Regions from separate parts of the Homo sapiens genome. Here all the other regions are reported to be linked to region 1. Evidence: microRNA targets listed by miRTarBase, many of them from high-throughput screens and not tested one by one. Region 1 holds a microRNA gene; each other region holds the end of a gene's coding sequence.
Evidence for each region. The annotated mature microRNA hsa-miR-5011-5p reads UAUAUAUACAGCCAUGCACUC and lies in region 1 at 2,012-2,032, shown strand. An mRNA with a match to its seed (bases 2 to 7 or 8) in the 3' UTR can be bound and repressed. Matches are read on the target gene's strand: a 7mer-m8 pairs with bases 2 to 8, a 7mer-A1 pairs with bases 2 to 7 and ends in A, and an 8mer does both.

Region 2: the mRNA of ACSL4 is a reported target of hsa-miR-5011-5p. Seed matches in the 3' UTR shown: 7mer-m8 at 1,353-1,359, 8mer at 1,253-1,260, 7mer-m8 at 1,252-1,258, 7mer-A1 at 1,243-1,249, 8mer at 1,241-1,248 and 7mer-m8 at 1,240-1,246.
Region 3: miRTarBase lists PHACTR2 as a target of hsa-miR-5011-5p. The part of its 3' UTR that is shown has no 7-base or 8-base seed match.

Annotation. Positions count from the first base shown.
Region 1 is chr18:67,079,596-67,084,120 of GRCh38, forward strand. MIR5011 (microRNA 5011) reads left to right here and starts at 1,989; the gene lies at 1,989-2,091.
Region 2 is chrX:109,641,354-109,644,353 of GRCh38, forward strand. It overlaps ACSL4 (acyl-CoA synthetase long chain family member 4), which reads right to left. Exons shown (of 16, transcript NM_001318510.2): 16 at 1-2,833. The coding sequence ends at 2,676. Among named protein-coding and RNA genes, the nearest start is that of KCNE5, 18 kb to the left of the region's middle.
Region 3 is chr6:143,823,535-143,826,534 of GRCh38, forward strand. It overlaps PHACTR2 (phosphatase and actin regulator 2), which reads left to right. Exons shown (of 13, transcript NM_001100164.2): 13 at 140-3,000. The coding sequence ends at 155. Among named protein-coding and RNA genes, the nearest start is that of LTV1, 18 kb to the right of the region's middle.

The DNA of each region.
Region 1 (4,525 bases):
CACATCCATGTATGTATAGAAATGTAATTGGAAACATATCAATTTTTTCTAGCCAGTAGATACACCTTCGGACGTCTTGAACTTAAAATGAAAAATTAAAGAAAAACTACATTGCAAACTCTCCATTGTCTCTGGGGTTCTTAGCTCATTTTCTCTGATAAAACCATGGGCATGGACAATTAAGAAATTAAGATGTGACCAATGATACAATAACATCCTGAAAATTGTACAGTAAGCCATCTGACCCTTAGAAACTTGTGTGCAAGTGTGTTTATCTTTGTAGATAGATCTTAATTAAATTACCTGGATCAAAGCTTAACGTATACTAAATTGCCACTCATGAATTATTGTCACACATTCTTGAGACACGGCTTTACAAATTTATATCCTTAAAAACCTAGATTGGAGTGCCTTCTTCACACATCCATGTCTAATATGGATCATGTTGAGTATCTTTGGATATATTAATTTTGCAATTTAATTTCAGAAAAAAGTAGTATAACACTATTGTTTTGATTTATATTTTTCTAATTGCAAAAGTTTTCTAATTTTCATGTATGTATTGGTAATTTGCATTCTATTCCTATAGAATTGTATATATTTTATTTTGTAATTTAGTATTGCTTCTTAAAAATAAATATTGACATTGTATATCATTTCGTTACATATATTGTATGTTTTCCTAATCCATCATGCATCACATACTTTGTTTTCCATATAAATTGTCATATATGTTTATTAACTAACTCATAAATACTCATATCTGTCACCATTTTTTAATGCTTTCTTGTGTTTTGTCATGTTTAGGAACACTTTCCCCACAATTCACAATACTATCTGACAGGTGTTAGTATACCTGTCAGTGTTCTTGGTTGTAGATGACTGAAATCCATTCCAATTGACCTAAACCAGGTAATAGATTATATTGGATAAATCATATAATTATTGGAAGGCTAAAGAAACAGGCTCAGAACAGGGCAGCCCCATGGAAACCAGGTTCCAGAATGGCAGTAAAATCCCCCCACAGGAACAGTCTGATGAGATAGCGCTGCTGCCACCGTGGCACTTCCTCCCCTAGGGCCTGGGATATTTGATGGTTAATTTCTGTACCTCTGTGATGAATACATACTTGTTTGTTTCTTACTGTTTTTACTTCTTGCTTCTGTTTCAAATTTCTCCCCGAAGCCATCTGTTTTAGTTTCCTCAGGCTGCCATAACAGATTAGCATAAAACAAATGGCTAAAAGAACAGAAATGTATTCTCCCCCAGTTCTAGAAGCCAGTTCAAACTCGGGTGTCGGCAGGATTGCATTTAATCCAGGATTCTAGGAGACAATTCTTTCTTATCTCTTCCAGTTCCTGGTAGCTCCAGATGTTTCTTGGAGCTACACTTGGCTATTTAAAGTTAATTTTAATGTTTAATTAACTAAACATTAAAATAATTAAAAAGTCAGTCCCTCCATTGTGTTAGCTGTATTTGAAATACTCAAAGGCACATGTGGCTACAGGCTACTATATTGGACTATGCAAGGGTAGAACACGTGTTATCACACAATGGTCTCTTGCACAGTATTGCTCTAGAATATTCCCTGGACAGAAAAGTTTTACCTGTGGGGCATTAAACAACAAAGAGCCTTACAATTGCCTCTGACTTGTATAGTAAAGCCAACAGTTGTTTGTTGTCATCGTCAGAAAAGTTGATTCCATATTTGAATATGGTTTCACTGCTTGTCATGCTTGGCCAATGCCACAAACCATGGATTAACTGATGGCCTTCTCCACTCTCATGGCTATTCACCCCCAACAATAGAACTTATTTCTTTCATGTTGCCTCATATGGCAGAATCCCCTTCTATTTTAAGGCTGAATAATATTTCATGGTCATATACATATATACACACACACAGTCATGCATTGCTTAACAGGGAAATGTACCTTAAGGCAATTTTATCATTGTTTGAACATCATGGAGTGTCCTTATCCAAACCTAGATGGTATTGAGTGGATGCTGTTATATATACAGCCATGCACTCTGTAGTTTGGGTACACAGTGCATGGCTGTATATATAACACTATCCATTCATCTTTCAGCAGGACTTTTTTTTGGTCACAACCCTGCTAACCAAAACAGGATCTGGCCAGAGAGCATGAAGTGAAGAAACTGATAGGAAGTGGCAGATGTCAACAAAAGCAATCTCTAACTACTCATTGCAATTTAATTGTCATGGTGCTGGTGGTAGTGTCTTATGCTAATGAGCAATATGAGCAGCCTGGCAACACAACCCAGAAGTTACCACCTCTTTCCATGGCAACAACCTAAAAGTTACTGCCCCTGCCTTAGAAAGTTCTAAACAACCTGCCCCTCAATTTGCATTGGCTCACCCCTCAATTTGCATGCATTTGACCTGCCTTAGAAAGTTCTAAACAACCTGCCCCTCAATTTGCATTGGCTCACCCCTCAATTTGCATGCAATTGAATGTGGGTCTCGCTGAGTATAAATACCGTTGCCAAGAGACCATATGTTGCTGACTCTGATTGCACTGCCTATGATTTAGCCCTGCTCTGCAAGGAGCAGTACCATTCAATAAACGATTGCTAAGACTCCTAGCTCATCCTTGAATTTTTTCCGGGGTTAAGCAAGAAATCCTCCCTGGCTAAGCCCCAGTTTGGGGCCTTGCCTGTCCCACAGCAGTGTAACGTACTACACACTTAGACAATATGACATAGACTGTATCTCCTAGGCTACAACTCTGTATAGCTTATTATTATACTGAATGCTATAGGCAATTGTAACACAATAGCATCCGTACATCTAAACATACCAAAACAAAGAAAAATTACACTAAAAACACAGTATCGTAATCTTATTGGACCACATTTATATATGTGGTTTTTTGTTGACTGATGCAATACACAGTGCATGGCTGTATATGTAACACTATCAGTCACCATTCAATGAGCAATTAGGTCGTTTCTATACTTTATTGCTACTAACACTACAATGAAATACATATGGATAAACCTAGAGGGCATTAAGCTAAGTAACTCTTACTTCTAAGATTTCTACCTTAAAGAGTCATATTTATGGCCTTTACTTGAGGTAAACTTCAGAAGCCATTTGTTGTGGATTAGGTAACGTGTGGAGAAATTGCTTTGTTGGGTTTTTCTTCCTTTGCATTTTAGTTTACACATATTAATTGTATGTATTTATAATCTGCAGAGTGATATTTTGATAAATGTATATGAAGTGTAATGATCAAATCAGAGTAATTAGGATAAACATCACCTCAAACATTTATCATTTCTTCATGTTTGGAATATTCCAAATCTCTTCTAGTTTTTTTAATATACACTATAAATTATTATTAACTATGCTTACCCTATAGTGCTATAGAACACTAGAACTTATTCCTCCTGTCTAGCTGTGACTTTGTATCCATTAATCAACCTTTCTCTGTCTTTAATAACATTATCAAACTGTGATTACCATAATTCTACTCTATACTTCTATAAGCTCATTTTTTAACTCCCACATATGAGAGAACATGCAGTGTTTATCTTTCTGTGCCTGACTTATCTCACCTAACATAATACCTTCCAGGTTTATCTGTGAATGGCAGAATGACAGAATTTTATTTTTCATGACTGGATATTATTGTATTGTATATATATGCCACAATTTCCTCAACTGTTCATCTTTTAAAGAACATTTAGCTTGATTCCTTATCTTGGCTATCACGAATAGTGCTGCAATAAATATGGAGATACAGATACGTCTTCTATAATTGATTTATTTTCTTTGGGTAAATACCTAGTAATGGGATTGCTATATCATATGGTGGTTTTATTTTTAGTTTTTTGAGGAACTTCCATACTATTTTCCATAATTACTGAACTAATTTGCATTTCCATTAACAGTGTACAAAACACAAGACTTGCTTTTTCTCCACATCCTTGCCAGCATGTTACTTTTTTTTTTGAGGCAGAGTATCAGGTCTCGCTCTGTTGCCCAGGCTGGAGTTCAATGGCGTGACCTTGGCTCACTGCAACCTCTGCCTCTTGGGATCAGGCAATTCTTCTGCCTCAGCCTCCCAAGTAGCTGGACTACAGGTACGTGCAACCACATCCGGCTAATTTTTTGTATTTTCAGTAGAGACGGAGTTTCACCATGTTAACCAGGCTGGTCTCGAACTCCTGACCTCAGGTGATCCGCCAGCCTCAGTCTACCAAAGTGCTGGGATTACAGGCTTGAGGCACTGCGCCTGGCTGCTTTTTTTCTTTTTATTATAGCCATTCTATTATATACACTTCCCTGATCATTAGTGATGTTGAGCAGTTTTTCATGTATCTGTTGGCCATCTTTATATCTTATTTTAAGAAATGTCTGTTCAGATTTTTTTTGCCCATTTTATAAATTATATACATATATATTTATATCTAGAGATATCTAATAGATTTGTAATTGAGTATCTTGTATATTTTGGATATGCAAATTCCTTGCCAAATAAACAGTATGCAATTTTTT
Region 2 (3,000 bases), not on the chromosome of region 1:
TATTTCTTAAGATTTGAGTGCAAACTTAAAAACAAGAACAAACAAAGCTTTTCATCAAGAATAAACACAAAATCTAAACAATTCTGCAATCATGCATTTTAACAGAAAGTACAAATATGAATACATTATAATTTGTAACTGCATTTAAAAATTAAAATATTTCTCTCCAAATCCAAAACACCACACAATCTTTATCTGTTCTCATCTTGTTACCTTAGAAACATTTGTCATATGCTATCAGGAAAATATAGGCAAGACTTACTAATCAGTTATTCATGATCAAAGAAACATGATTCTCCTTAACTGTGACTTTTTGAATCATTTATCTGTATTTCTGAAATATCACACAATTATACCTCTACTCTAGAGAAAAAAAGAATAAATACAAATATCAAGGAGGCAGGAACATTCATGGAATTAAAGCAAAAGTCACAAGTGTTTGACTTAGAAATGTACATATTGTAGTAAATTTTTAAAGTACAACTTTAGTTGATGGCTGATGTGTATGTAATAACTGTGAGCAATTTAAACAGGTATAAAAATGTGAGATCAAAATCTTTAGGCTTAAATACTTGAAAAGTCACTATGGATATGGAAAGATTTGTTTACATAAACATGTATATTTTTAGATGGAAAATCAAGGGGTAGTGGCATCTCCCTGGTCCCTTAACAATATTTGGATTTTTGCAAAGAATTAGCAGCACCCAACCTTAAGTGTTAATTATGTGTTTCTAAAGGACCTATAACAGATCAGTTGGCAGTGTTCTAGCTTTTGGGAGTTGGGGGCAGATTGGGGGTGCAAATATCTGAGATAAGATAGTACATGCACTCACACATTTAAAATCACCATTCTAAATGGGAAAAAAAATCACATATTGGAAAAGTCTAAGAAACTCATTCTTAAGGGATAAACAGCAGGGCAGGAATAAAAGCTGAACAGTAGTCTACTTGATAATAATGGTATTTCACTCTTCAAAGGCAAGTTGGGAAGAATGAGAATACTCACATACACATAACTTCAGGGAAAACTTGCCTAAAATTTTACCTTGCAAAACGCTGAACAGAAATCTTTACAAAAACCTTCATTCTTGTTTATAATACTTGATTTTTCCCTTATTACCACCATATACATAACATTTAAGTATTTTCTTCATAAATATTTTAGAGCAAAAAGAATGTATTTTGTTGCAATGGTGGCCCACATCTGTACAAAACAACATAAGCAACACACACACACACATATATATATGCATATATATAAAAAATGATTAAGAAAAAGTGCAAAGAATAACAGTATTAAGATTTTTTGCATTTTACAGTAACTATGGTTCAAGTGTGAATATTTATCAGGGATATATAATCCCAGGTTTTAATTAAAGATTCAAAAAGAAACCACACTCCCAAGTTACTGCACAAACATCAGTCCCTTATCAAGTAACTCTGCCCTTCTCCCAAATCTAGTATTTCCAGTTTCTAAGCTCTTCCCAAACAGGAAAAAATGATAACAGTGTTTTCTTCCCTTTAACTTCCCAAAACTCATCCAAGTTAATCACCTGTAAGTTCAAGCAAGATATTGGGGAAGTCATTCATTATAACCCGCTTTGCTAAAATTAAAGCAAAATGAAAGGCTTTCTGAAATGCAAACTACTGATCAAGAATAAAATCAGCAACAGCAAACAGACCTTAAATTACAAATGTAATTTAATACATGTACATTTTAAAATCAATCCCTGTTATCAAAGATAAATTCAGAGTTTAAATCTCTTTCCCAGGTTCAGTGCTGTGCAAGGGTTCTAATTCCAAATACTTATGATTTTATCACCTTTTCTAAGAGAAAATGTTTGCCTGTTAACTTTTTACCTTCCTTGCTCTTGGTCTCAGCTTTTCAGTTTGAATAAACACAGAAAGGCAATTTTCAGCATTTCAAAAAATGTACTTTCCTCTTAGTCATTCAAATAATTACAGTTATTTTTAGATCTCAAAGTTTCAAAAAAAGCAGCTCAATTTCCCTTTAAATATATTACTAGATATTTTTTGGTGTTGTATATGTTGTTCTATTCTTATTTTAGGCACTGTAATTATTCACAACATTACAATGACTCTATATCTAACCTATGCAACAATTATAATCTTAATACCTTCTAAGGTATTATTTGATTTTGTGTATTATATTACTATTGAATTTTTCCTTCAAGATAAATGGTTGGAAGAGAATTTTAAAGCCCTGCAGCACTTTTGCTTTGAGTAGTGTTAATACATATTTTCTGTCATGCTTAATATTTAAACTTCTGAAATAGGAAGACAAGAGGCATTGGAAGCTGCAAATTTCCTCAAACTACATTCTACTCCAACTCCAATTTATTTTGTTCAACATTAAATATTTTTCTTTACAAAAACAAGTATATCTTAGGCTAATTTTTAAAAACAGAATTTCTGCTCTATAATAACACAGCTAAAGGGAAATAACTTTTCAATTTCAGCTGCACTAGAACTATGCAAAACTAAGTTAAAGTAAACCGGACAACAATTTTAATAACTTTTGGTTTTGTTTTCTTTTTACTCTATCTTTAGAATGATATACCTTACATTCTAACAGTTCAACAAAGGCTTAAAATTCTAGAGGTTGAAAACCACCAGGCTACCTCCTGCACAACTGTCAATAAGACAACAACATTTTATTTGCCCCCATACATTCGTTCAATGTCTTTGAGGTAATGGTTCCTCAGCTCCTTCCTTTTCAGTTTGAAAGCATCAGTTACCAAACCAGTTTCAGGGGTCCATGGCTCTGGGCTTAATCGAACCTTGATTGGAATTTCAAATCGCTCCAATTTCACTGAAATTAGAAGTGAAAGATGGGAGAAAAGGAGAGGGGGGGAAAGAGACGAGAAAGGAGTGGGGACGGGGAAAGAAGGGGAAGGAGAAGCAATTAATAAAATATGAGTTTTTCAGGATTTACCTAGATGATTCGGGTGTTGAATCACCAATCACCACAAACTTATT
Region 3 (3,000 bases), not on the chromosome of region 1:
AGAAATTTGTAAACAGTAATTCAGTTGGGGGATATCTGGGGTACCTTTTCATTGTAAACATGACCACGCCTTATTCAGCTCACTGCATGCAGAATGTGCTCCTAGGCCACAGGCTTATAGTTTCTATTTCTTACTCCAGGTTTCATCGTCCATAACGAAGAGTGAGACTATTTGGAAACAGAGACTGATCATCTTTGGGGGAAGCCCTGCTTCCTGAAAACCTGATATTGCACTGGGATTTGAATGTGTGTGTTTCCGTTTAACTTGTGGTGAAGGAAGTGTGTGACTCAGCTTGGCTGGGAAGTGCTCCTCACCTGTGTGGCCCAGATGGCTCCAACAAGCAAAAGGAAGGATGCAGTGACTCTTGCTGCCCAGAATGCACAGCGATGGTAAGAGACACCGTGGATATTCTTCATCAGAAGCTTTAATCAAAGAAGATGAGCAGAAGACAATCACTGGCTCCCTGTTACCAGAAAGCCAAATTTTATAATGCGGGTGAAAGAAAAATATAGATTAAAATTGCTGGGCACTGAAAAGGGGTGGGAGTTGGAAATCAGAAAGAAAGAGAAATATTTCATTATGTTAATGAAGAAAAGAGAAAATTGAAGCATAAATGTATTTTTGAAGTAGTTATTCGGTAGCTGAGAACTTATTAAGGGATTTAGGAATTTAACCTCCTGATGTGGATTCCTCAAAGACTTGATCGGAGAATACTCTTGTTTCACCATTATGTTGGTACAGTATAGTACCATTATTTTATGTTGTGCCAGTGAATCCAGTTGCCAGAAATAAGTCTGAATGTTTTCATGCATCTTTTTCTTAAATGCAAGAGCTTCTACTGACTCTTAACAAGCATGCTTACCCAAATTTTGTTGCATGCTTTTAAGTAGCATTAGCTATGCACACTTGACATTTTTAAATATCCCTTTCCTAGTGTACCAGCCTTCACAGGATAAGAGGACTGGGAATAAAGTCAGATGTAATGTGACCCTAGAAAACTGTAGCAAGCTTCAGAAATAAATCTTTTGATCTTTCCCTATCTTGATTAGATCCAAAGTCAAAGCAACCATACTTCACCTAGAGAAGACAGTATTGGCAATCATGACACCTGTAATAAAAACTTGAATCCAAAGTCAAAACTTAAGCAAGATACAAATGTGCTGCCTGCAGTTAGTCCTGCATGGGAATAAGGACTAGTTATTTTTTTAGTGCTGCATTTTTTTAAAGTTGGATTGCTGCTATTTAAAAAAAAAAAAAGGACACAGATCAAAAAAACACCCAAAGGCTTAACAGAACATGGAAAGTTCCCACTAAGTTGTGTGTGAGGAAATCCTCATCTTGTATTTTAAGAATCTGCAGATGGCATCCATAGATACAGTACAGTATTTACTGTCAATGCAAAAGAATCAGTGAGGTTAAAGTAGTGGAAGTTTTCCCTATGAGCCTACAGTCTGTATTGTTTACATTAAGAAACTCTCTATTATTGTGTTGCTATTTTCCATGGAGTCACAGGCACACTATGACTTCTGCTCCCAAATACATATGACCATATGTAAATACCACCTTGCATTTCATTGTTCTTCACAAGTGCTTTGTGCCCCTTTAATTAAAAACACATGAAATGAATAACAAAACAAGACCCAAATAGAGTTTATTTTATTCTCAGAGTTTGGACTACAATTTTCTAAGATGTTTCTGGTTCAAGACTGTCATTTTCTATTTCAACCGAAAAGTAAGCATTTAACCCGGTGAATAAATGTAGATCCTGCCATTCATTGGTATTTTAAAGAACCACTTGAAATCGGATCATTTTATTTAAAAATAAAAAATGTTAATGCCAGTTGGCCTACTATAAAAAGCCAGGACCATGTTAGAATTAGGAAAAGTAACCAGCATTACTGCACCTCTTGTTAGACTCTGTGCATTAATAAAACACACCTAGAGTCTGTTGTCATTTCACTAATAGGATAAGACAAATTTTTTGCTTTGAAAAAATTTTTCTGCATGCCCAGGTGTCTGTCTCTGGCTGAGGTTTTGTCTATTTTACAGTGTTTCAATCCAGCCATAAAAATTAACTTGTGATTTTTTTTTTCCCAAAGTCATGCTTTTCCTTAATTATATTTTTATTTTATTATTTTAGTGTCTTGAGAAAAATACCAAGAGATATAATGTTTCTTTTAATTGTCTATGCTTAATCATCTTTAAACACTTTTTAAATTTCTAACCACAAGACCTCTCTATAATGGTAAATGTAAGACATCACCATTTTATCACTCAAAGTATGTTATTGAAAGTTTCTATTTGGTTGATAAAAGGAACAATTTTTTCCCACTTTTGATGCCTGTGATGCAATTTTTTATTGCCTACAATGAGATACACTTAGTACAAAAAATGAAAATCTGGTATTTCAAAATTGCATTTCTTGTATAATAGGTCAGATTTATTAACTACTCATACTTTTTCTTTACACTAATCGATACATTTAGAAAAAATTTTCTAAGTTAGAGACAAGTTTAAAAGTAAAAAAAAAAAAAAATTAGCCACTGCTAGTCTACTGTTTAGGTAATCGGAATCACCAATTATTTTATTAGAATGATGGCTTGAGTAAAAAGCTGTGGAAAGAATTAAAGGATTATGAGCTAAGCTGTATTTTGCAGAATATGGTTCTATTTTAGTAGAGCAGAGATGAGACATATCCCCACCGGCCACCCAGCCAGAGGTCTCCTACCTGGGGGCCCTAAAGGGATGCAGAGGTCTGGCCCACCCTCCGTGCATAGGCACCTCTGTCCACCACCAGCGTTTCAGCAATCCAACCAGTAAGCATATGCTGTATAGGAAAAATAAAAGTGTGTGGGAATTGGATTTCTTTTGTTGTAACACAATTCCAGGTTTTTGGCTATTTAAAGTTTGACATTAGGCTGACATCGAGGAAGTAAGTGGGTTTTCCTGAGTTCCCAAGATATGATTAAGGAAGAAAACAAACCCATCTCCAGGAAGATC